7 linked regions of the Homo sapiens genome follow. The protein of the gene in region 1 purifies or fractionates together with the protein of each later gene. This does not show direct contact. Each region holds a gene or a part of one and is shown in the gene's direction. Other genes may lie near its edges. The genes, in order: SLC12A4, TTC1, TMEM9B, CLGN, DNAJB4, DNAJA3 and CUX1.

What was found.
Region 2: the proteins of SLC12A4 (region 1) and TTC1 purify together in Homo sapiens (affinity purification with mass spectrometry; one large-scale study listed by BioGRID and IntAct). This does not show direct contact.
Region 3: the proteins of SLC12A4 (region 1) and TMEM9B purify together in Homo sapiens (affinity purification with mass spectrometry; 2 studies listed by BioGRID and IntAct, with this or other methods). This does not show direct contact.
Region 4: the proteins of SLC12A4 (region 1) and CLGN purify together in Homo sapiens (co-immunoprecipitation; 2 studies listed by BioGRID and IntAct, with this or other methods). This does not show direct contact.
Region 5: the proteins of SLC12A4 (region 1) and DNAJB4 purify together in Homo sapiens (affinity purification with mass spectrometry; one large-scale study listed by BioGRID and IntAct). This does not show direct contact.
Region 6: the proteins of SLC12A4 (region 1) and DNAJA3 purify together in Homo sapiens (affinity purification with mass spectrometry; one large-scale study listed by BioGRID and IntAct). This does not show direct contact.
Region 7: the proteins of SLC12A4 (region 1) and CUX1 purify together in Homo sapiens (affinity purification with mass spectrometry; one large-scale study listed by BioGRID and IntAct). This does not show direct contact.

What each region holds. Positions count from the first base shown.
Region 1 is NC_000016.10:67,951,638-67,955,137, reverse strand, and holds part of SLC12A4 (solute carrier family 12 member 4), read left to right. Parts: intron 1-364; coding exon 365-495; intron 496-2,712; coding exon 2,713-2,954; intron 2,955-3,100; coding exon 3,101-3,315; intron 3,316-3,500. UniProt on the Homo sapiens protein: Mediates electroneutral potassium-chloride cotransport when activated by cell swelling. May contribute to cell volume homeostasis in single cells. May be involved in the regulation of basolateral Cl(-) exit in NaCl absorbing epithelia.
Region 2 is NC_000005.10:160,036,639-160,040,138, forward strand, and holds part of TTC1 (tetratricopeptide repeat protein 1), read left to right. Parts: intron 1-52; coding exon 53-165; intron 166-3,500.
Region 3 is NC_000011.10:8,950,943-8,954,442, reverse strand, and holds part of TMEM9B (transmembrane protein 9B isoform a precursor), read left to right. Parts: intron 1-1,105; coding exon 1,106-1,240; intron 1,241-3,500. UniProt on the Homo sapiens protein: Enhances production of pro-inflammatory cytokines induced by TNF, IL1B, and TLR ligands. Has a role in TNF activation of both the NF-kappaB and MAPK pathways.
Region 4 is NC_000004.12:140,389,649-140,393,148, reverse strand, and holds part of CLGN (calmegin precursor), read left to right. Parts: intron 1-437; coding exon 438-563; intron 564-770; coding exon 771-930; intron 931-2,420; coding exon 2,421-2,521; intron 2,522-3,500. UniProt on the Homo sapiens protein: Functions during spermatogenesis as a chaperone for a range of client proteins that are important for sperm adhesion onto the egg zona pellucida and for subsequent penetration of the zona pellucida.
Region 5 is NC_000001.11:78,007,939-78,011,438, forward strand, and holds part of DNAJB4 (dnaJ homolog subfamily B member 4), read left to right. Parts: intron 1-3,500. UniProt on the Homo sapiens protein: Probable chaperone. Stimulates ATP hydrolysis and the folding of unfolded proteins mediated by HSPA1A/B (in vitro).
Region 6 is NC_000016.10:4,432,368-4,435,867, forward strand, and holds part of DNAJA3 (dnaJ homolog subfamily A member 3, mitochondrial), read left to right. Parts: intron 1-2,016; coding exon 2,017-2,150; intron 2,151-3,500. UniProt on the Homo sapiens protein: Modulates apoptotic signal transduction or effector structures within the mitochondrial matrix. Affect cytochrome C release from the mitochondria and caspase 3 activation, but not caspase 8 activation.
Region 7 is NC_000007.14:102,195,126-102,198,625, forward strand, and holds part of CUX1 (Homeobox protein cut-like 1), read left to right. Parts: intron 1-381; coding exon 382-478; intron 479-1,508; coding exon 1,509-2,180; intron 2,181-3,500. UniProt on the Homo sapiens protein: May be involved in intra-Golgi retrograde transport.

The sequences.
Region 1 (3,500 bases):
CAGGCCTCAGGAGGGTGAGGTGGGCTGAGATAGGACACACCCAGCCAGAGGAGGCTGTGGGCTGTGCACAGGGCATTGGAGGATGGTGGCCAGTCAGCCACTGCTGCAGACTAGAGCTGCTCCCGCAAAGCAGTTATTTCCACGGGCCGTGCTGGACATTCGAGTCAGATGGGGATAGGATCGAATGTCAGCCTAGATGCTTACCCACCGTGCAGCCCTGGGTAGGTCTCCCAGCCCCTCTACTCATCCACAAACAGGAAAAGCAGTCCCTGTCCCTCTGGGTGGTTGTGCAGGCTTGTCACAGGGAGACCCCTTGAAGAAGAACCAGCCTTGACCTGTGCACACTTTCATTTCTCTGCTGTAGCTGGGGGCTCCTATTTCATGATCTCTCGTTCACTGGGGCCAGAATTTGGAGGTGCTGTGGGCCTGTGCTTCTACCTGGGAACAACATTCGCAGCAGCCATGTACATCCTGGGGGCCATCGAGATCTTGCTGGTGAGTCAGGCTGAGCCCTGGCCAACTCTGGCCATGTCCAAACAGTCCCTTTGGACTCCAAACAGAAGGCTCAGGCTGTTCATCCCCACATGTCTGGCCAAGGCCTGGGTATTATAAAGTAGGAAGCCTCTTCGAGAGACAAAGACCTTTACTCAGGCTGGTCTTCCTTTCACCTCCATGCCAGTTTGGGCCAGGCAAGGCAGAGGCCTGGCTGCCTTCACCTCGGCCCTGGATGTTCCATCCACCTGGGCACCATTGCAGCCATGGCAAGGGTTCCAGGAACTGTTGTATTCAGCTCAGTGACAGATCTTGGTGGTGATGTAGGCTTCCTTCTGGGCTTGTGTGAGCTCTGGCCAGCTCTGTGTCCTCCGGGGCTCTGTGCCAGGGCACTTCAGATCCACCTTCTCCTTGTCCTTCAATCAGGGTAAGCAGCCACAGAACCCTGCTGGAGGTCGGCGCTCCCTCCACGAGCCCCATGGGAGCTCTGTCAGCCTCAGCTTCTCATTCCCCAGTGAACTGCCGTACCAGTGGGAGAAGAGGCAAGGAGCTGCGGGAGGCATGGGGTGACAGGTGCCCGCCCCTGGGGATCCAGAGGGTAGGAGATACCTGGAGGGACTGCCTGGCTGTTCTTGTCTCCAGGTCCTCTACCTGCAGCAGGACCCTGCACCTGAATCTTCTGATTTGGGGGGGCTTTGGCTTGTTTTCATTTCTCATATCCCTTCTACATTCATTATGTGGGATTTGTCCCTTCTCCTGTTTATCTATTCAGCCATGTCATTATATCTGTATGGACTTCTGGATATTTACTTTATTCTTTGGGTTGTAATCCAATACTATCATTATTTATTTTCTTGCTCAAACTGTTCCACTTTGGCTATTTAACGATTCAGGTTGGCATCTATGTTTGGATCCTTTTTGTTTGCTTGTTTTTAAGTAACAGCTTTATTAACATATAATTTACATACCATGCAATTCCCATACCAATTTATATACCATTGAAAGTGTACAATTCAATGTTTTATAGTATATTCACAGAGTTGCGCAGTCAATTCTAGAACATTTTCATCATCCCAAGAACCCCCATTAGCAGTCACTCTCCATTCCCCGCCAGCCCTGGCAACCAGGAATCTGCTTTCTGCCTTGGGATTTGCCTATTCTGGGCATCTCATATAAACAGAATCATATAATATGTGACCTTTTGTGACTGGCTTCTTTTAGGTACTCTTATTTTTTATTTTTATTTATTTATTTGTTTTGAGATGCAGTCTCACTCTGTCGCCCAAGCTGGAGTGCAGTGGCATGATCACAGCTCACTGCAATTTCCGCCTCCTGGGTTCAAGTGATTCTCCTGCCTCAGCCTCCCGAGTAGCTGGGATTACAGGCTCATGCCACCACGCCCAGCTAATTTTTTGTATTTTAGTAGAGATGAGGTTTCACCAAGTTGCCTGGGGTTGTCTCGAACTCTTGAGCTCAGGCAGTCGGCCTCCCAGAGTGCTGGGATTATAGGCATGAGCCATTGCGCCCGGCCTATTCATTTATTTTTTTGAGACAAGGTCTCACTCTGTCACCCAGACTGGAGTGCCGTGGTGTGGTCTCTACTCACTGCAACCACCACCTCCGAGACTGAAGTGATTCTCCTGCCTCAGCCTCCCGAGTAGCTGGGATTACAGGCGTGTGCCACTACTACCAGTTTTTGCACCACTAATTTTTGTATTTTTAGTAGAGATGAGGTTTCACCATGTTGGCCAGGCTGGTCTCAAACTCCTGACCTCAAGTGATCCACCGCCTCAGCCTCCCAAAGTGCTGGGATTACAGGCGTGAGCCACGGCGCTGACCTATTTTTTATTTTTTTTTGAGACGGAGTCCCCCTCTGTCACCCAGGCTGGAGTGCAGTGGTGCGATCTCTGCTCACTGCAACCTCTGCTTCCTGGATTCAGGCGATCCTCCTGCCTCAGCCTCCAGTTGCTGGGATTACAGGCACGTGCCACCACGCCCGGCTAATTTTTAGTAGAGATGGCGTTTCCCCATGTTGGCCAGGCTAGTCATGATCTCCTGACCTCAAGTGATCCCCCACCTCAGCCTCCCAAAGTGCTGGGATTACAGGCGTGAGCCACTGCGCCCGGCCTCTTTTAGGTACTCGTAAAAAGAAAACCAAAACGACAAGTTTCACTTTCCAAATAAGAAATAAAACCCTCCTTATCCATCTTCTTGTTTCAGACCTACATTGCCCCACCAGCTGCCATTTTTTACCCATCGGGTGCTCATGACACGTCGAATGCCACTTTGAACAATATGCGTGTGTATGGGACCATTTTCCTGACCTTCATGACCCTGGTGGTGTTTGTGGGGGTCAAGTATGTGAACAAATTTGCCTCGCTCTTCCTGGCCTGTGTGATCATCTCCATCCTCTCCATCTATGCTGGGGGCATAAAGTCTATATTTGACCCTCCCGTGTTTCCGTAAGTAACCCAGGAATTTATCTGGGCATTGCATGGACATCCCTCCCATGTAGCCAGCCTTTGATGCCCCAGATCCCAGAGACTGCAGGGTGGGCACAGGCAGGGGCTTTGACCTGAGCAGGTGCCGGTGCTTCTGTCCCTCACAGGGTATGCATGCTGGGCAACAGGACCCTGTCCCGGGACCAGTTTGACATCTGTGCCAAGACAGCTGTAGTGGACAATGAGACAGTGGCCACCCAGCTATGGAGTTTCTTCTGCCACAGCCCCAACCTTACGACCGACTCCTGTGACCCCTACTTCATGCTCAACAATGTGACCGAGATCCCTGGCATCCCCGGGGCAGCTGCTGGTGTGCTCCAGGGTGGGTCCTCCCTCCCGTCGTCTTGCTCTTGAGCCCACAGGCTGAGCAGGGGCACAGAGCACAGAGCTGTCCTTGTGTGGCCAGCTTGGGAACGGGGGCAGGACTGGCCGCCTTCCCAGCCCCCCAGTGTCCTCCCAGCCTGGCTCCTGGCAGCCGAGTTTGGAGTGAGTGGAGCCTGTCTGGCC
Region 2 (3,500 bases), on another chromosome or scaffold:
TAGTATCAGGAATAAAATCAAAATGACCATTCATCCTTTCTCTTATCCTCAGATTATATAGAAGCTGAAAGTTCTTATAGTCGAGCCCTCGAAATGTGCCCATCCTGCTTCCAAAAGGAGAGGTCGATTCTATTTTCAAATAGAGCTGCAGCAAGGATGAAACAGGTATGTATCTGTGACCTTTTCTTTTTAAAAAGCACATGGACTTGCAGTCTTTTCATACCATAGTTTCTCTCCAGAAACTAGCATAGAGGTTGCTGCCTCCCTTTTCCTGCCCATATATTTCCCTGATGTAAAGGCCACAGGGAGAATAGAAAATCTTTTGAAAAACTTGAGTCAGATTACTGTTAACATTCCCCATTAAAGTAGCTGAGTGAATACTTTCATGGAAGGAGGGCTGGCAAATTTTTTGCTAAACTAGGTCAGGTTAATGAAGCAATGAGCCAAGCAGTGCATGTCCTAGAATAGCTCTAGATCCTTATTTTAGGCCTCTGGAATTCTAGATAAACATGCAAAGGCACAGGGAAACACTGGTAAAAACTCTGGGCTTTAAAGCATCTTTAAAGATGGTTATTCCCAGGATTCTGACTTTTCTGTTCAAAGTATGGACACTTGGAGAAATCTCCAACAGCTGGGATAAAAGGTACCCTTAAATGCAAAATAGGTGTCAAGGAACTTTGAAAACATTTTGTATTTCCAAAGGACTGAGAACCTAGTATAACAAGGTGAGTATGGAATAGGTGAGAGTACAAATATATTTGTTTTATACCATGACCTTATTAAAAGTTAGATTTGGGCCAGATGCAGTGGCTCACACCCGTAAACCCAGCACTATGGGTGGCCGAGGCGGGCACATCACCTGAGATCAGGAGTTCGAGACCAGCCTGGCCAACATGGTCAAACCCCATCTCTACTAAAAATACAAAAATTAGCCAGGCATGGTGGTGGGCACCTGTAATCCCATCTACTCAAGAAGCTGAGGCAGGAGAGTCGCTGAAGCCTGGAGGCAGAGGTTGCAGTGCACTGCACTCTGGCCTGGGCGACAAGAGCAAAACTCTGTCTCAAAAAAAAAGTTAGATTTGTTTCTGATTTGTCTGATTTTCCGATTTAGTCTTCATAATCCTTGGATTGAAATGAGAGTGGTTTTTTTTTTTTTTAAACCATACCACTTTTTAAACTATGGCTACTTACATCCAAAGTACAAAGGATAGGTTATTTAACATACCTTTAAGCAACCATGATGCTGGCTCAAGATTGGAAGTGGCAGTGTTTTCATTTGTTTGTTTAGATCAGATATCTCTTTGATACTGTCTGAAATTCTCAAATGCCTCTACCACAGTCACTTTAGGTGACAAGGTTTTTTTTGTTGTTGTTGTTTTTTTTAAAGGCCCCAGGGCAGGGTTGCGGGGGTGGGTGCTTGAATGCTTGGACATGCAGAAAGGTTACGGTTTTTTTTTTTTACCAGAACTTGTGTAAGATTCAATCTTCAAAGCAGAGTATTTTTGGAGTATTTCATGTGGCATGAGAGAAGAAATAATTTTATAGTATACAAACCAACATTTTGTATTAGAGAAAACAAAACAATTGGTTTAACTTTATTTAAAACAATATTCATTAATGTGTCCCACCAGCAATCAGAATTAACATCTAACAGTTTTTACACTTACCTGGAAAATTCTGATCTTTTAGATTTGCTTCTCCCTTTTGCCACATTTTTAGACTGGACATTGTCATTGTGAAATAGGATCAAGGATGTGCCTTCAGTATCAGAGGAAATGCACCATACCCAGTTGGCTCCTGGGATTTGGGATTCTTTGTTTCTACAGTTGCCCAAGTTATTGATATTTCTAGGTTTGGGCTCACATAAATAGTCTGGTTCTTGAGTTAGGAAAATGTATGGTCTTGTTAGTATTTTGTCTGTCACATCTGAGGAGAACTCAAAAGAGCGTTGCTCTATGATTGTTGCCTGTTCAAAGAATAGTTTTGTTGGTGAAGTTTTCTGTTCTTTTAAGTTGCGTTTCTTTTTTTTTTTTTTTTTTTTTGAGACGGAGTCTCACTCTGTCACCTAGGCTGGAGTGCAGTGGTGTGATCTCGGCTCACTGCAACCTCCGCCTCCCGTGTTCAAGCGATTCTCCTGCCTCAGCCTCCTGAGTAGCTGGGATTACAAGTGCGCGCCACCACGCCAGGCTAATTTTTGTATTTTTAGTAGAGACAGAGTTTCACCATGTTGGTCAAGCTGGTCTCAAACTCCTGACCTCGTGATCCGCCCACCTCAGCTTCCCAAAGTGCTGGGATTACAGGCGTGAGCCGCCGTCCCCGGCCTTAAGTTGCATTTTTAATACTTTATGAAGACTCTAAAATGAGAGACTTGATAACTTCTAGGATTAGTACCCTGACACAATTTAAGGAGCATATTATATTCTAAGTTTTTCAAGGAAATGATGGTTTAACTGCTTTAAGAGGTAAAGATGAAGAATTTCTGAAAGGCAGGTTTGCAAGCTCAGCATCCCTGACTCAGTGCCCCTGGCCACGCTTCACATTTCATATCTGGAGAGAGAAAAGGTAACCTGGAGCTAGGGCAGAGTTTCAGCTCTAGGTCTCGCTAGCTATACAAGAGCAGAGCCCTAAAAGAGTAGGTTCTCTTTTTTTTTTTTTTTTTAACTACTGTCCTTATATATTATATACATTGTTTTATATGTATAGTTAGATTTGTTTGTCCTTATATGCTGTGTACATTTGTTTTGTCACTATATATTATGTATACTGTTTTATATAGATAGATAGCTACCTATATATAAAAATTATGAAAGAATGGTAAAGTTGTGATTTTTTTTTTTTTCCCACACACTCCACTTTGGGGACTACCATTGTAAGCAGCAGACAACACCTGGGTCCTCTGAGGTATTAGTAGACTATGAGCCTCAAACAAAAGTTTCTGCAATAAAATTCCATAATTCCTTGATTTGAGGAGACAGTGGATAAGATGCACTACAGCTTAATAATCACTTCTAGGCACACAAAGAATACCATCACAACAGTTGTACACATAAATTGTAAAGATTTATTTCTATTTCAGAAACTGTGAAATTGTGTGTCTTTGACTTATAGAAATGTGATAAGTTGAAAAAATATTGACTTATATAAAGTTATACAGATTACTTACAGGACTTCTTAGAGTTTTTGATATTTGAATTGGTATGCTGAACATTGAAAGAGAAATAAAAAAAGGTCCCAGATGACCCTGAAACCTTTTTTGTTTTGTTTATTGTGGTAAAATACAGATAACATAAAGTTGGCCATTTTAAAGTACAGTCATGAGTCACTTAACAACGGGTATACATTCTGAGAAATGTGTTATTAGGTGATTTCATCATTGTGCAAACATCATAGAGTATACTTACACAAATCTGGATGGTATGGCCTACTACACACCTAAGCTATATGGTATAACCTATTGCTCCTGGGCTACAAACCTGTACAGCATGTTTCTGCACTGAATT
Region 3 (3,500 bases), on another chromosome or scaffold:
GTGGCACGCACCTGTAGTCCCAGCTACTTGGGAGGCTACGGCATGAGAATCACTTGATCCTGGAGGCAGAGGTTGCAGTGAGCTGAGATCGTGCCACTGCACTCCAGTGAGACTCTGTCTCAAAAAAAAAAAAATAAAATCCAGTTTCAGAACATTCCCACTACCCCAAAAAGATCCCTCATGCCCATTTACAGTTAATTCCCATTTCCAGCCCTACTCGGTCACTAGTCTACTTTCTGTCTCTGCATACATGGACATTTCATGTATATGGAATCATATAATATATAGTCTTCTGTGACTGGCTTCTTTCATTTAGCACAATGTTTTTGATGTTTATGCAAGTTGTAGCATGTATCAGTACTTCGTTTCTTTTTATTGCTGAATAGTATTTCACTATATGAATATGCATTTATCAGTTGATGGACGTTTGGATTATGTCTGGGTTTTTACTATTATGAATAATACTGTTGTGAATATCTGCACATATGTCTTTGTATGGATATATATGTTTTCCATTCTCTTGGGTTAATTCCTTAGAATGGTAAAATTATGTTTAACTTTTTAAGAGACTGCCAGATTGTTTCCCAAAGTGGTTGTACCACTTTACATTCCCACCACAGCGTATGAGGGCTGTTTCTCCATATCCTTGCTAATACTTGGTATTGTCTATTTATTTTATTGTAGTCCTTCTAGTGGGTGTGTCACACTGTACTTTTTCTCAGTACATGAATTAAGGTCACAAGAAAAAATCACCGGCCTAGAAAATACTTTTGTATATCTAAATTGAGCTAAAGAGTAGCTGAATTTAGGACATTATGTTCAGCTGGGAAAAGAAACAAACTGCTGTGCTAGCAGTGGTGACAGGTGATTAGCAGTAGGTGAAGTTGGAGTCTTGAAGACTTGCAAAAAAATCCCAAAGATCTTTCCTCTTTTTTTCTTAAATAATACTTTGGTGAAGAGTTGAGTTTATTTCTTATATTGCTATCTGGTTTGTATAGAAATCCTATAGGCTTAGCAGATATGTCAGTCAGTTTTACTATTATCATACAAAGTTCTGATTTATGGGCTTGAACAAAGATGTAACTTAATTTTCAATTTCCTTTAGGTTACCATTATAATTTATCTCTCCATTTTGGGCCTTCTACTTCTGTACATGGTATATCTTACTCTGGTTGAGCCCATACTGAAGAGGCGCCTCTTTGGACATGCACAGTTGATACAGAGTGATGATGATATTGGGGTAAGTTCCCAGCCTGCCCTAGCTGCTCATGGCCAGTCCCTGTCATCATTCGATGTGAAGTGCAAGTGAAAAATAGTCATATATAGATGTTCACGTGCTGAAGCAGATCCTCAACTAGAGAAGCTAAAAACAGCTCTGATTTCAGTATATACCTCTTTATGAAGAAATTGCTTGATGAAGCCATAAATGTGATGATTTAAACGATGATCTTTGGTGAGCATGCTATACAGGGCCTTGCTTTCAGTACCAAAGGCACAATTTTATTGCCATTCCCTGTTTACATTGAGAAAAGTATCAGAGATGGTTTTCTCTCCAAGCTCTCCTGCCTGAAACACCTTCTCTGTCAATATCACCAAATATTTTAGAAGGCAGAGAGGTTTTCATCAAGGGAAGTGTGAAGATCATGATGTTCTTTTCTTAATGAAGTACAACTTGATAACCTGCTGATGTTTTATATTTCCTTTTTTTCTACTGCTTAAAAAAAAATCTGTGGGCCAGGTGTGGGGGCATACACCTGTAATCCCAGCACTTTGGGAGGCCAAGGTGGGAGGATCACTTGAGCCCAGGAGTTCAAGACCACCCTGGTCAACATGGTGAGACCCTGTCTCTACAAAAAATAAAAGCATTAGCCGGGTGTGGTGGTGCATGCCTGTGGTCCCAACTATTCAGGAGGCTGAGACAGGAGTGTCACTTGACCCCAGGAGTTTGAGGCTGCAGAACTGTGATCACACCATAGGACTCCAGCCTAAGCAACACAGCAAGAAGCCTGTTTAAAAAAAAAGAAAAAAAAAATCTGAGATCTTTAGAGAAAAATAAAACCATGACTACCATCACTCCAGATTCTCTTCCTGTCTTTAAATCTCTCACACACACACACACACACGTGTGTACATTATATATGTTTATATATATATATATATAGCGTGTGTGTGTGTGTGTGTGTGTGTGTGTGTATATAGTTGGCATAATCTGTATAAATTGCTTCATGGTCTCCTTTTTGTTTTAATATTCGTTTATTCAAAAATGTCCAGAAATTGACTTAGTCCACAAATCTGTTTTTCAGTGTAGCTTAGAGAATGTTTTTTTTGTTTTTTGAGACGGAGTCTCACTCTGTCGCCCATGCTGGAGTGCAGTGGCGTGACTTTGGCTCACTACAACCTCAGCCTCCCAAGTTCAAGCAATTCTCCTGCCTCAGCCTCCCAGGTAGCTGGTTCTACAGGCACCTGCCACCACGCCTGGCTAATTTTTTTTGTATTTTTAGTAGAGACGGAGTTTCACCATTTTGGCCAGGCTGCTCTTGAACTCCTGACCTCAAGTGATCAGCTCGCCTCGGCCTCCCAAAGTGCTGGGATTACAGGTGTGAGCCACTGCGCCTGGCTGGATATTTTTGTTTCATCATTACCCTGTATGAAATTGTTTCTGAATTTTCCTTTTTTTTTTTTTTTGAGACGCAGTCTCGCTCTGTTGCCCCGGCTGGACTGCAGTGGTGCGATCTCAGCGCACTGCAAGCTCCGCCTCCCGGGTTCACGCCATTCTCCTGCCTCAGCCTCCCAAGTAGCTGGAACTACAGGCGCCCGCCATCGCGCCCGGCTAATTTTTCGTATTTTTTTTTTCTAGTAGAGACGGGGTTTCACTGTGTTAGCCAGGATGGTCTCAATCTCCTGACCTCATGATCCCCCTGCCTCGGCCTCCCAAAGTGCTGGGATTACAGGCGTGAGCCACCGCACCCAGCTGAATTTTCCATTCTTTCATTATTATATATAATTATTTTTTTAGAAATTACTTTTTCTCGTGGATTATTATATTGGACTATGTTCCTTAAAATGGGTAAAATTCAGAATAGTTTTAAGGTTCAATTCAAAAGCCAAACCCAGAGTGAGCCCTTGCCAGCCAGTCAAAAGTCCTTTTACCCTGGAATGGCTCGTGCATCTATAGGCATAGACGTTGAAAGTCTTAAACGACATCCTTCCTTTACAGCGTTAAATATCTGTTCCTGATTTCAGAAATAGACAATATAATAACACAAAACATAAGAGAAATGGATGTAGAGATGAAAACATGTAGGGCAGGCATTTAATTGGTGGGATCACATGCTCAGTAATTGTTTTGTCCACCAGTGATTGATTCTGCTTGTGTATTGACTATTTGAGAACACTGTCTCTGTGAGGCCTGGCTGACTCTTGGATGTCTTTTAAACTGATTCTAGGCAGAGAGGTTTTCTGACCAGAGCTGTGAATTTATGGTAACAACTCTACAAAAA
Region 4 (3,500 bases), on another chromosome or scaffold:
ATGTGTGAAATGTGTTTATATAAAAAAGAAAACAATTCTGAGGTATGATTTTTAGTAAGTTCTTTAAAAGTACAGAATGAATGATCAGAGTACAGAATGAATGATCACTTCAAATAAACCAGGTAATACATCCATAAAAGGTAGTTCTATTCTGAAATTTACCAAAAAGGAAAATTACCATTTTTCTTGCCAGTATGTTAGAAGTTTCCACTTTTGTCATAACATACCTTCTGCTATCAAGTCTCACTCAGTGATGCATGCTAATAATTAAATTAGACTTTACAAAGTATAAGGTGGGAAAATGAAACTTCTTTTACTTACGAGTTCATCACTCCTTAATGTAAAATGCCTGAGTAAATAAGTTTTTTTGTATCTTGTGTTACCCAGTAAAGGTTTGTAAAATTTGAATTGCATTTTTATGCTTATCTCGTCTATAGCCTGGTGTATTAAAACAGTTAATGGCAGCTGCTGAAGGGCACCCATGGCTTTGGTTGATTTATCTTGTGACAGCAGGAGTGCCAATAGCATTAATTACTTCATTTTGTTGGCCAAGAAAAGTAAAGGTAAAGAAAATGGATTTCCTTCAACTTTTTTCACCCAAATTTCTTGTTGTTTAAGAGTTCTATAAATTAAGCGATTCTTAAAAGTAATAAACTAAATGTCTCATAAGTTTTACTGATAGTTCATTATGTATGTTATCAATTATTGCAAAAAAACTTTCAAAATAGCACTCTGCCTTTAGTAAAAATAACTTATGTTAACTACCACAGAAAAAACATAAAGATACAGAGTATAAAAAAACCGACATATGTATACCACAAACAAAAGGAGTACTAGAGCAAGAAGAAAAGGAAGAGAAAGCAGCCCTGGAAAAACCAATGGACCTGGAAGAGGAAAAAAAGCAAAATGATGGTGAAATGCTTGAAAAAGGTAAGATGATGAGAGTGATTTATAATGGAGACTCTGGGTAAAGCTCATAAAACTGTATATGGCCTTGAAATAACTAGTTATTATACTTGTTTATTATCAAGTTTATACATCTGAATCTCCCAAGAATATGTGACTGTGGCAAGAAGGAATAATAGTCCTCTGAGCAGCCACCCTGTTTATAGTTTTTGCATTCTAGGAAGAAGGAGATTTAAATAGTGTTCAGTTGCTTGAGAGCCTAGCAGTTAATGAATCCCATAGGCCATAGCTTTTTGCAAGGATGTTTCTTGGCTCTGGGAGTGTAGAAGATGAGATGGAGGGTGATAGAGGGTGTATATCATGGCCTCTGTAGAAAAGGAATAGATATAAAACAGATGATTGCAGCAACAAAATCAACACCAAGTCTTCCAACAGCTATTGTTAGTCAGATGCTTATCATATAGAAGAAATAATTTAATTAATTTTCTGAAAGGATTGCTGAACCTATATCCCCTTCTCACCCTATGTTAAACTCTTGAAGATGTTAGAACTGAAGTCACCCTTTGGTGGCTGTCCGCTGAGACCTCCTTACATAAGGTAGAAATAAAACTATTGATTTGCCCAGTGTCCCAAGCCAAATGTCTTGAAGCACAGTGTTTAACTCACTTAATGAAACAGTTGACTTAAAAACACATATGTGTCTATCTATTTTTTAAGAGACAGTATATATATATATACACACATATACATACACATGTTCATGTGTGTATTAGGATAGGTATCTAAAACAACAAATGTTTCAGGTTGTAAGTTTCCAGCCTTGTTTTTGTAACTTCTTAGTGCTTAGTATATTGATGTCTGGATCAGCCTTATTTAGAGGGAATTTAAGTATCGGAGGGGCCTGCTTGTATAAAGGTACTTTCACCACTTTCATCTATACACGTAGTCCCACATTGGAACTACGTAGAAGAAGTAGAGTTGATTTTTCAACTTCCCTTTCCCCAAAGCCCATTCTTGGTAGGGTAGGAGTTTTTACTTTATATAGCTCCTAGGACGTGCTTAATATCTTTTGGTTAATAATGATGACAAAAGTTGGAGGTTCTGCTAAATGGAATCCTAAGGAGGGTCAATAACTGAAAAAATGCATGATGTCCACAGAGAACAAACATAAGTAAATAACATATTGAAGATTAAAAGATCACCAAAAATTAAAGGAAGTATTTTCCAAGACAGGAACACAGGAAAGATTATTATTTTTTGGTTTTCATATTACATACAGACTGAATGCTTAAGAATTTTTTAAACTTGTCCCCAAACTCAAATATGATTCATTTATAAAATATGATAATATAATGAGTATTTATAATTTTTAAAATTTTGAATGGAAGAAGTTGCTTCTAAATCTTGGAATAAATCTTGGAATTTAAATAAATCCCATTTATTGTATTTAATACTTTTCAGTAGCAAAATTCTAATTTATTGAGTCTTTGCTTTTAACAAAATCTGTATTCTAGAAGAGGAAAGTGAACCTGAGGAAAAGAGTGAAGAAGAAATTGAAATCATAGAAGGGCAAGAAGAAAGTAATCAATCAAATAAGTCTGGGTCAGAGGATGAGGTAACAGAAAATAAGCTGGTTTCTATGTATAGTTGTTATCCATAAAAAGTTTTTTCAATAAAAGCACCAATATGATTTATGAAAGAATTTTTGCCATATTTCTCTCAGCTTTTATAAGAGCCTCTATATTGTTTTTAAAACATATCCATAAGGAAGGAAAGAAAAATACTGTAATTTATATTGTCTCAATGCCTAGTAAAACAGTATAGAGCAAGCCTGTGGCGTACAAAATATAAAGATAGAATACATGTATCCAAAATTATGACTTTCTCATTGAAATTCTATTGAAAAGCATAATAAACACATTGTTTGAATATTTAAAAGATAATTATCATTATTATAATTTTTATAGCTGTTGTAAAACATCTTTATTGTCTCAACATTTTACTCTCACGTTTTAAAATATTTCATTCATTGGGTAGTTGAGTACTATCTGCCTGATAGGGTATTTTTCTCAAATCTTTAGTGAACTTTTCTCCCCCCTTATTAGTCTACCCCTTTTTGTGTCCTGATATAAAATGGAACTTTGCACAATGCTTTTTTTTTGTAAGTTATTATGGAATGAGAAATCCCGAGTATAATTAGAGCCAGAGCTGTCTTTTTTCTTTTTTGTTTTTAATCCAGCATAAACCAAAAACCAGTTTTCTCTGGCCCTTAAAGAGCTGGGTAGCCTTACCCCACAGAGTCACCATCCTAACATATTACATTCCAACTATGTAGGTAGGATAAAAGTACAGTTCTGCCTGCTCTTGCATGTGATGAAATGAATTTTGTATTTTATCTATTTAAAGAAATCCTCCAAATAAATTTGCAATTATTGTTAAGTCTTTCCTAATGTTTAATCAGTACACATACTGTTTGCTGGTCTTCCTGCCCTCTGAGTTTTTATAGGGACTTTGGGACCATTATTTAGTATGAATATCCATATTTAGGGAGAGCTAGGTGAAGAGAATTTCTTCCAGAGCCAAGTTTTAAATAA
Region 5 (3,500 bases), on another chromosome or scaffold:
AAACTGAAAAGTATGTAAGTTGCATATGCTAAATTTATGTATTTAGGAGTGAAAGAACCAGTAATCCAGAACACAGTATATTTGTGTTCTGAATATTCACAATTTAAAATGCTTTGTTTTAAAAACAGTTGGCTAGCTGGGTGAGGTGGCATATGCCTGTAGTCTCAGCTAATAGGGAGGCTGAGGCTGAAGGATTGCTTGAGCCCAAGAGTTTGAGTCCAGCCTTTGCAACATAGCAAGACCCTACCTCTAGAAAAAGCAAAGGAAAGAAAAAAAATACGGATAACTCAAATTTACTTTTAGGAATCTATAAAAGGGAAACAAAAACATGTCCACACAAAGACATGTACCTGAATGCTTATAGCAGCATTATTTATAATAGCCCCAAACTGGAAACAATCTGAAAGCACCATAAATTGGTGAATTAAACAAAATGTGCTATATACATTCAATGAGGAACTATTTAGCAATAAAAGGACCAATTTGTGAAACATGCTACACCATTGATGAACCTCAGAAACTATGCTAAATTAAAGAAGCCAGATGTAAAAGACTATATATTGTATGATTTTATTTATGTGAAATGTCTGGAAAAGGCCAGTATATAGAAAAAGAAAGCAGATCTTTCTTGCCTAGGACTTGAGGTGGGAGCGGGGATTAGCTACAAATAAGAACTAGAGAATTCTTTGGAATGATGGAAATGTTCTATAACTGGATTGTGATGATGGTTATACAGCTCTATCAATTTACTATAATCAATTGAATTGTATTTGTACAATAGGTTAATTTTATATATGTAATAAATCTTTTTAAAAATAAAATTTCTCTATAGTTGAATCATTTGAAAACAAAAACCACAGAACTACAGAAATTTAAAATTGGATTCTGAACCACTCTCTAAAGTTTTAGGTTTAGTCTTGAATAGTTTAGTGGATGTCAACAAAAATTTGTGTTAAGAGATTTAAAAGAAAAGATTTTCAATAACACATCCTCATTTATTCTAGTTTTCTAATTTTTCTTTTTTTATGCTTTCCTTATTTTGTTATTGCATATGATTTATTCAGTAACTTCAAATATTAAAAGGTAGTGTTTAAATGATAAAACTTGTATTTATTAATCTTTATACTAGTTCTCTTCTGTTCTTTAACTTATATATTTAGCTAGCTGGATTTTTTTTAATTCACTGTGTGTTCTAAAAACATGTAAGTAAATTTGATTTTTGTGAATTAAAACTGTTTAAAAAATCTCAGAATCTCATTATTTGATAACTGAAGTCTTGCTGTAAATCTGGATTTTTACATATTAGATCTCCTTGGATGGAGTAAGAGTTATTAAAGTATTATCATGTTTTTTTCTTTGCAATCTGAATTTTTCTCCAGTGTTTCTTCTTTTGGAAACTTTTAGTCAACCTTAACTAATTAGTGGGAATCATTGTTATAGATAGTATTCCAAACACATATTTGGTTTGGGACTGCAAACTGGTTGACTGGTTAGTTGTAAAATAATAGCAGTCTTGCTAAATCATAGGCAAATGTTGCTTCTCTGGTGCGTTTTTTGATCACACAAAGTGATGACGATGTCTAGAAAACATTTTGAATAGCAGAGGGAATCCAATTGGATATTAAACATTTCCATTAGCGTTCAAAATGTACATGATTAAGAACTGACCATATAGTTAATGTGACATTACTTATAATTTTATGTGCTAGACAATGCAAGTGATACTTGCATAATAATGTATATTAAAGTGGCATGAATTTTGGTAGGATTTTTTTCTTTTTTTTGTTGTTTTTGAGACAGAATCAGTCTCCTGAGTAGCTGGGATTACAGGCGTGCGCCACCACGCCTGGCTAATTTTTGTATTTTTAGTAGAGACGAGGTTTCACCATGTTGGTCAGGCTGATCTCGAACTCCAGACCTCATGCTCCACCCACCTTGGCCTCCCAAAGTTCTGGGATTATAGGTGTGAGCCACTGTGCCCAGCCTAGGATTTTTTTCATTCATTAGAGTAGCTTCGTTCTTTGTCTGAGCTGCATAGTTGACTGTTTAATAGTGTCTAGGAAAACCTCAAAGCTGCATTGGAGTCTTTTTATCAGCTTTGGTAAGTTACTTCAGACTTTGTATGAATCTTCTCAGAGACTTTGTAATTATGACCGAATTGCCCTTTTTGGCAGAGGAGGAAGAGGTTTTCCAGAAAGCCAAACCCATGATGTAATAAATTAAAACATTATTCTTTCTTTTCATGAATTCATTATGGGTGCAAGTATTTAAATTTTGTCTTATAAGAGGCTAGATTGGGCAGGCTGATTTACCCAGTTTACTTAACTCAGTTAAATAATTATACTCCCTTAAGTCTATGGGATGAAGGATAAAATTATTTAAATAATTTAAGCATTGGTTGAGTCACTTTGGTCATGACCTTGAGCTACATATTATTCTATCATTAAAAAAAAAATCTGCCATTACCTTTTTAACATTTGGAGTTATAATTATACTACTAAAATTTATAAAAGGGAAATTTGGATGAGCTGCTTATGAAAAGATCTTGTCCTGCTTATACTTGTCATTCTACAAGGAATTTCCCTAACTGCTATTTGGATATATTGTTCAATACATATTTTGGCAATTTTCAGATTATTAGGTCTCTCTTGATCTCTCCAGATTTCTATTCATGGATGAAGGTAAAAATTTTAGATATCACTTGAGACCCTGTTAGATGAAATAGAGTAGATATATACCTTTTAATGGAAGAAGCCAAATGCAGAATAAGACGTAAGCAAAACTAAGTTTCTTTAAAGTATGCTGTGTGTTAGTGGCATTTTAAATTGTTAAATCTCTCATATATGTATATGTGTGATTATATTTTACATTGTTTTTGCTTCTGCCTTTTTCTCTGTACCGATACTCAAGACACCTTTTTTAGTTTTGATTTAGAAGGACTTTAGGAATTAGTTCATTCCCTTCATTCACTAAGCATGAATACCTACCATTTTCAGCCCTGTATGCATGAGCAGTGCAAAATAAATATATTTCCTGCCTTCAAATCACTCACTGTTTGGAGATATTAGAATCTCCTAGCTTAATCTGTTGGATTTTTCATAGTTTTATGATTTTTAGATTCTTTTCCTGCTTGTTTCTTGATCTGTATTGACCCCTTAAAAGATCACCATACTGTTGTTTTTTGAGTTTTAGTAGAACATTTCTTTCATAGTGGAAAATGTTGTTTCAAATATAATCTTTTGTGGGTTAAATATTACTTAGTGGAACCCTTAAGCAAAGGGTCAAAAAGTCACTATATTGTTGCCTGAGGTGGACTGTTCACAAGAGACAGAAATAACCCATATAGAGGCCTTACGTGTCAAAGTTTACAGCTCTTGATTTCAGTCTTCTTACAAGCATTGAAATTAATGCTAAGATGTGATATGCCTAAAAAATTTGGTATCTAGAGTAGGAATGACAATCGTAGTGTCTAAAAAACCATTTTTCATAGAATGTCCTCA
Region 6 (3,500 bases), about 64 Mb from region 1:
GTTTCACTCCTGTTGCCCAGGCTGGAGTGCAATGGCGCGATCTTGGCTCACTGCAACCTCTGCCCCCCAGGTTCAAGCGATTCTCTTGCTTCAGCCTCCTTACTAGCTGGGATTACAGGCATGTACCACCACATCCGGCTAATTTTGTATTTTTAGTAGAGATGGGGTTTCTCCATGTTGGTCAGGCTGGTCTCTAACTCCTGACCTCAGGTGATCCGCCCGCCTTGGCCTCCCAAAGTGCTGGGATTACAGGCAGGAGCCACCATACCCGGCCCGGCTTATTCACTTTTTAAACAGATTTCATCTATTAAAACACCTCCAGTCTGGGCGTGGTGGCACACGCCTGTAGTCCCAGTTACTTGGGAGGCTGAGGCAGGAGAGTCGCTTGAACCCAGCAGGCGGAGGTTGCAGTGAGCCAAAATCGCACCACTGCACGCCAGTCTGGGCAAGAAGAGCGAAACTCCGTCTCAAAAAACAAAGAAACAAAAAGCCTGCCGGGCACGGTGGCTCACGCCGGTAATCCCAGCACTTTGGGAGGTCGAGGCAGGCGGATCATGAGGTCAGGAGATCGAGACCATCCTGGCTAACACGGCGAAACCCCGTCTCTACTAAAAATATGAAAAAATTAGCCGAGTGTGGTGGCAGGCGCCCGTAGTCCCAGCTACTTGGGAGGCTGAGGCAGGAGAATGGCGTGAACCCGGGAAGTGGAGCTTGCAGTGAGCCAGGATGGCGCCACTGCACTCCAGCCTGGGCGACAGAGCGAGACTCCATCTCAAAAAACAAAAAACCTGCTCTTCCTATCTGTTAAGTGGATGAACTAAAACATCCTTGTTTCTTAAGCAGTTGGTGTCTTGCTATTAAAAAAGGTGCTGTGAATCCAGATCCAAAGTACAAAGTCATCCTAGTTAGTAACCGCCATTTGTTTTCCACTGAAAGTGGCAAATGCTTTCCTGGGCAGCTTAGCCAGTTTCTGCAGCTTAACAGCTGATGCCTAGAAGTTCTTCCCCGACCTTCTTAGATTGATTTGTCATTGGTTCTCAGCAGGGGACACTTTTACTTCCCAGGGGACATTTGGCAATGCCTGGAGACGGGGAGTTCTCTACTGGCATCTAGTGGGTGGAGACCTCCTGAGTTTCTGGTGAATGTCTGGAGTAGGGCTTGAACATCTGTGTTTTCATCAGTCTAATGATGCTGTTGGTCCAGGGAGCGCAGTCTTGAGAACTGCTCCTTAAGTAGATACCCAAGGCTGCAAGATAGAGGGAAAAGAATGTGGGGAGTTGTTAAGCATTAAATGTGACAGAAAAATATGAAAATATGAAAATACCTAGCAAATGGTAAGTGCTCATGTGGCATAAGAGGGGGGAGCTGAATCCCTTTTTAATCATCTCCCAGTCAGGAGTATTATTCCTTTAGTGGTTTACTGAGACCACTCCAGTAGTATAAGCGAGGAGAATCAGCCTCATCCAATACTCTGACATAGTTTAATATTAATTGAATACTGTGGCTTCCTTAGCCATTATTGAAGTGCATTAGGGAACAGCCCTAAAGCTGTAGCCTGTGTATTAGTCTGTTCTCATGCAGCTAATAAAGACATACCTAAGACTGGGTAAATTTTAAAGGAAAGAGGTTTATTTAACTCACAGTTCAGCACGGCTGGGGAGGCCTCAGCGATCGTGGCGGAAGGGGAAGCAAACACATCCTTCTTAACATGGCAGCAGGAAGAATGAGCAAAAGGGTGAGCCCCTCATAAAACTATCAGATCTCATGAGAACTTACTATCGCGAGACCAGCATGGAGGTAACCGCTCCTGTGATTCAGTTACCTCCCATCAGGTCCCTCCCATGACACGTGGGGATTATGGGAACTAAAATTCTAGTTGAGATCTGGGTGGGGACACAGCCAAACCTTATCAGTTTGTTTGTTCCTTCACAGATATAGCCTGGTGGGTCATGTACTCACAGTTTTCTTTTGTTGAGAACATTCCCAGAGTGATTTTCTTTGTTTTTTCCTTTTTAGGAACAAAACATAACCCTTTCATTTGTACTGCCTCCTTCCACACGAGTGCCCCTTTGGCCAAAGAAGATTATTATCAGATATTAGGAGTGCCTCGAAATGCCAGCCAGAAAGAGATCAAGAAAGCCTATTATCAGGTCTGTATGGAAGTCAGGTTTTGGTGACCAAATTGTAGTAGGAATGTTGTTGATCCCATGTGATCCTGATCAGTACAGCGTATGTGCCCATATGAATAGGTCTCATGAGCTGATAGTATAGAAGGGTGTGATAAAGCTGGACTTTGCTAGACTGTTTTTCGATGCACAATGCTGTAGAGGTTGGTGCTTCAGAAAAAAGAGGTGAGTCCAAACCAGAGATTTTAAGAAGTTTTTTTTTCTAGAGCTGTTTTCATAATTAAATTTAATCTGTATTTTCTGAATCAGTAGATATGCTAGTCTAAGTTTTAGGTAGTTATTTTTTGCATCCAGATAAAAGTTTAGAGGTTTAGAATTACTTCCTTTCCTTTCTTTTTTTTTTTTTTTTTTTTTTTTTTTTGAGATGGAGTCTCACTCCATTGCTGAGGCTGGAGTGCAGTGGCGCAATCTTGGCTCACTGCAACCTCTGCCTCCTGGGTTCAAGCAGTTCTCCTGTGTCCGCCTCCCAAGTAGCTGGGACTATAGGCACCTGCCACCACACCCGGCTAATTTTTTTTGTATTTTTAGTAGAGACGCGGTTTCACTTTGTTGGTCAGGCTGGTCTTAAACTCCTGACCTCAGGTGATCCACCTGCCTCAGCCTCCCAAAGTGCTGGGATTACAGGCGTGAGCCACCGCGCCTGGCCCTTTCTTAACCTGGAAAATGTGAAATTCCCATTGTATCCCAGGGTCTATTAGGGTAGTTAGGGTAGCTGAGTAAAGTTGTATACGAGATGTCTACACCACTGGTTCCTAGACCCTTGGTTTGCTCTGACCAACAAAATAAAATCAATATTGGAGGCACCATTGTAGGATTGACAGCTTTTTATAAGTGCACAGTTCACTGGAGTTGTGCACCTGTCACCACAGTCAACTTTAGGACATTTTCATTACCTCGAAAAGAAACTCTGTATTCATTAGCACTCCCCTTCCATTGTCCTCTCTCCCCGGTCCCTAGCAGCTGCTAATCTGCGTCCTGCCTCTTTGGATTTGCCTATTCTCAATATTCATATACAGGGAATCATACAATATGTATCCTTTTGTGTGTCTTGGCTTCTTTCATTCACATAATGTTTTCAGGGTTCATCTGTGTTATAGTTTGTGTCAATACTTCATCCCTTTTTATGGTCAAATAATCTGTTGCATGGATTAATCACATTTTGTTTATTCATCGTTTGATGGACATTTGGATATTTTCCACTTTTTGCTATCATGAACAGTGCTGCTATATAGACATTCATATGTAAGTTTTTGTGTAGACATGTTTTCAGTTCTCTTGGATATTTAGGAGTATAGTTGCTGAGTCATATGGTAA
Region 7 (3,500 bases), on another chromosome or scaffold:
AAAAAAAGAAAAGTTCCCTTTACAGTAACGTTCGGACAGACGTTTGTGGCTTGGCAGCCAGTCTTATGGCCAAATGAGGCACGGGCTCAGGTCGCTTGAGTTTGAGAACAGATGAGAGAATAATTAATTTTTTTAGGAGCTGTGGAAGTCTAAGAAGGAAAATGACTTCAACTAGAATCCATTCTTTCTAAAGGGAACTTGTTTTCCACGTGTGTTAAACGACTTGGGGGGAAATCAGCTGTCCGCAGCCCACTTCCTAATCAGATCGAGAGCTGGGTGGGAACGCGGACAGATGGAGGGAGGCAGGGCTCCAGGCCTGGTGGCCCCGGGAGCGGGTGAGTGGCCGGCCCCGCAGTGAGACCCCCGCTCTGCCCCTTCTAGGATGCGGCCAAGCCCCTGGAGGTGCTGTTGCTGGAGAAGAACCGCTCGCTGCAGTCCGAGAACGCCGCGCTGCGCATCTCCAACAGCGACCTGAGCGGTAGGTTGGCCGGGCTTCGCGCGTGTGCGGTGGTTGGTTCGCTTCCAGGGGTCGGTCGAGGACGAGGAAGGTGAATCGTGAGTCTGGACAGATGCATGGCCAGAGAAGCGCCGGTTGACGAGAACCTTTGACTAACGCGTGTTGGGTGCCCTCCTCCTCACCGCTCCTCCCTTCCCTTCCCCGCCCTGCTTAAAGCTGGATGTCGAGACGGGCCAGCCGCACAGGCTCTGCGGAGGTCAGTTAGGGGCAGTGCGGCTGGAATCCCCGGGAGGGACAGCTCGGAGGACGTCGGCCTTTCTGATCTGTGTCTGGTTGTGCTGCACAGAGGCCAGGGGCAGTGTGAACCCAGCCTCGCTCTGGTGGTGTTTTCAGGGACAGCCCCGGGCCTGCCGGGTCCAGTAGAGGTTTTTCTTCCTTGGTCAGGTTTCCCCTGGGGACGCGTCCCCCATCCTTAGCCTTTCTTGGCTCATCCCCCAAATGGTGGCGTCACTTGACTGTGCTTCTGGTTTGGGCAGCTGGTAAAACGCGTACAGGTGTCTCGGGCTCTAATGGTATTGCATTCTCAAAACGGGCGCGCGCCTCCACATCGAGGGGGCTCGGTACGGTGCATCGCCTCAGAGCAAGAGGTGCGAGCGAATCCATTGGTCCTAAAATGTCAGTGTTTGCTGCTCCTCCGGCCGGGGCCAGCGGGCCCAGTAAGAGGCCCGCGACCCGTCAACTCTTCCCTGTGTGTGTCACCAGCTCCTTGTCACGCTAGGAGTTTGAGTCTATGTCAAGGGGACTCTCCAGGCTGCAACGTACAAGAAAGGCGCAAACATGAATGCATGTTGCTTGTTTTGGGAAGCCTCGTTTGGCTGACTTACAAATTTAATCGGAAAACAAACCAACCCACCTCATTGGCCCTTGTAAAAAAAACCTGCACTTTTTTTTGTTTTCCCTTTTGCGGGGGCAAACTTTTGCATTTTGGTCTTGGTTTTTTTTTCCCCCTTTGGAATCCCCCATAATGCATTCTGTTTGCCCTTCCTTGTAGGGTCAGCCAGGAGGAAAGGGAAAGACCAGCCTGAAAGTCGGCGCCCGGGATCTTTGCCGGCCCCCCCTCCTTCTCAGTTGCCCCGCAACCCGGGGGAGCAGGCTTCCAATACTAATGGTACACACCAGTTCTCACCAGCGGGGTTAAGTCAAGACTTTTTCAGCTCATCCCTGGCAAGCCCCAGCCTACCCCTGGCTTCTACAGGAAAATTTGCACTAAACTCTCTTCTCCAGCGGCAGCTAATGCAGTCCTTCTACTCCAAGGCTATGCAGGAAGCCGGAAGCACAAGCATGATTTTTTCAACAGGTCCATACAGCACAAACTCCATATCTTCCCAAAGTCCATTACAACAAAGCCCAGATGTCAATGGCATGGCCCCATCCCCCAGCCAGTCAGAAAGTGCTGGGAGCGTCTCCGAGGGCGAGGAGATGGACACTGCAGAAATCGCCCGGCAGGTCAAAGAGCAGCTGATTAAGCACAATATCGGACAACGTATTTTCGGACATTATGTGTTGGGACTGTCTCAAGGGTCCGTGAGCGAGATTCTGGCCCGGCCCAAGCCATGGAATAAACTGACTGTTCGTGGCAAGGAGCCATTTCACAAGATGAAACAGTTCCTCTCCGATGAGCAGAACATCCTGGCCCTCCGTAGCATCCAAGGCAGACAAAGAGGTGAGAGACTGGCGTTGGGTGGCGCCAGCGTGCGAGCCCGTCACAGAGTTGCACATGTGTGTGTGCATGCGTGCGTGTGTCTGTGTGCGTGATGAAACATTTGTGCATCACATCAGGTAAAGTTCTCTTTGCTTCTGCCACGTCCAGAGCTCAAGGGTGGCCCGGCATGAGTTAAGGCTGTTAGATTTGGGAGATCTGGCCTTTGAAACGCACTCAGCACTCCATACTTAGGAAACCCTATAGTATTTCAATACTAGAGATCGTATCAGAGGGAATTGCATTACATGATGTATAGCGTCTCCGTATGCTTAGTGGCCGCGGGTCCAATTGGCCTTGGGTGCTGGTCTCACTTTTGGGAGGAGCCCTTAAGTCCCCTCCAGCCCCATAGCAGCAACGTTGACTGGGCTCGATCCTCATGCAAAGCTGGTTCTGTAGGGAGAACACATCACAGATGACACCTCCCCTCTTCCCACCCCGCAGAAGAGGGCGTGTCCCATGGCCACCTTCCCTACATTGTTCACGGTCCATTAGTGATTTGTTTAGCATTATGAGTAAAACAGGCCTGGCTTGAGTAAAATACACAAAAGTTTTATTTAAGCACCCTTTCTACCCCACCCTCCGTAAAAAGATAAAATGTCAGTCACATTCATAATTTCAAAAAATCCCAGCCGGGCACAGTAGCTCACGCCTATAATTCCAGCAGTTTGGGAGGCTGAGGTGGATGGATCGCTTGAGTCCAGGAGTTCAAGACCAGCCTGGGCAACATATATTTTGTAATCTTTTGATCTACAAAAAAATCAAAAGGTTAGCTGGGCGTGGTGGCGTGTACCTGTGGTCCCAGCTACTTGAGAGGCTAAGGCAGGAGGATGGCTTGAGCCCAGGAGGTGGAGGCTGCAGTGAGCCATGATTGAGCCACTGCACTCCAGTCTGGGCAACAGAGTGAGAACCTGCCTCAAATAAAAAAACAAAAAAGAAAGTTCCTTTTCTGTTTAAGACCAGGGGATCAATGTGCCACATCAACAGAGCTATTGAGAGGTCATTTCATCAGACATGTTTGAAACACCCTGAAATTTAGACTCAAACAGAGCAGGGAGATGTTTTGAACAGCATCAATTTGCACCAAGAAAATGCAGTGTTTTATGAGGATGTTAACCGAAATTGAATGTCTTTGGATGATTAATGCGAGCTTTGTTCTGGGGGCTGGCGGGTGATCCTCCTTCAAGGCAGTCCTCCCTCCCATGGACCTCCCTGGCCTCAATGCCGTAGGTCGCTACTTAGATTTCCCCCATCTCCTTTTGCAGCAGAGCCACGGCCTCTGCG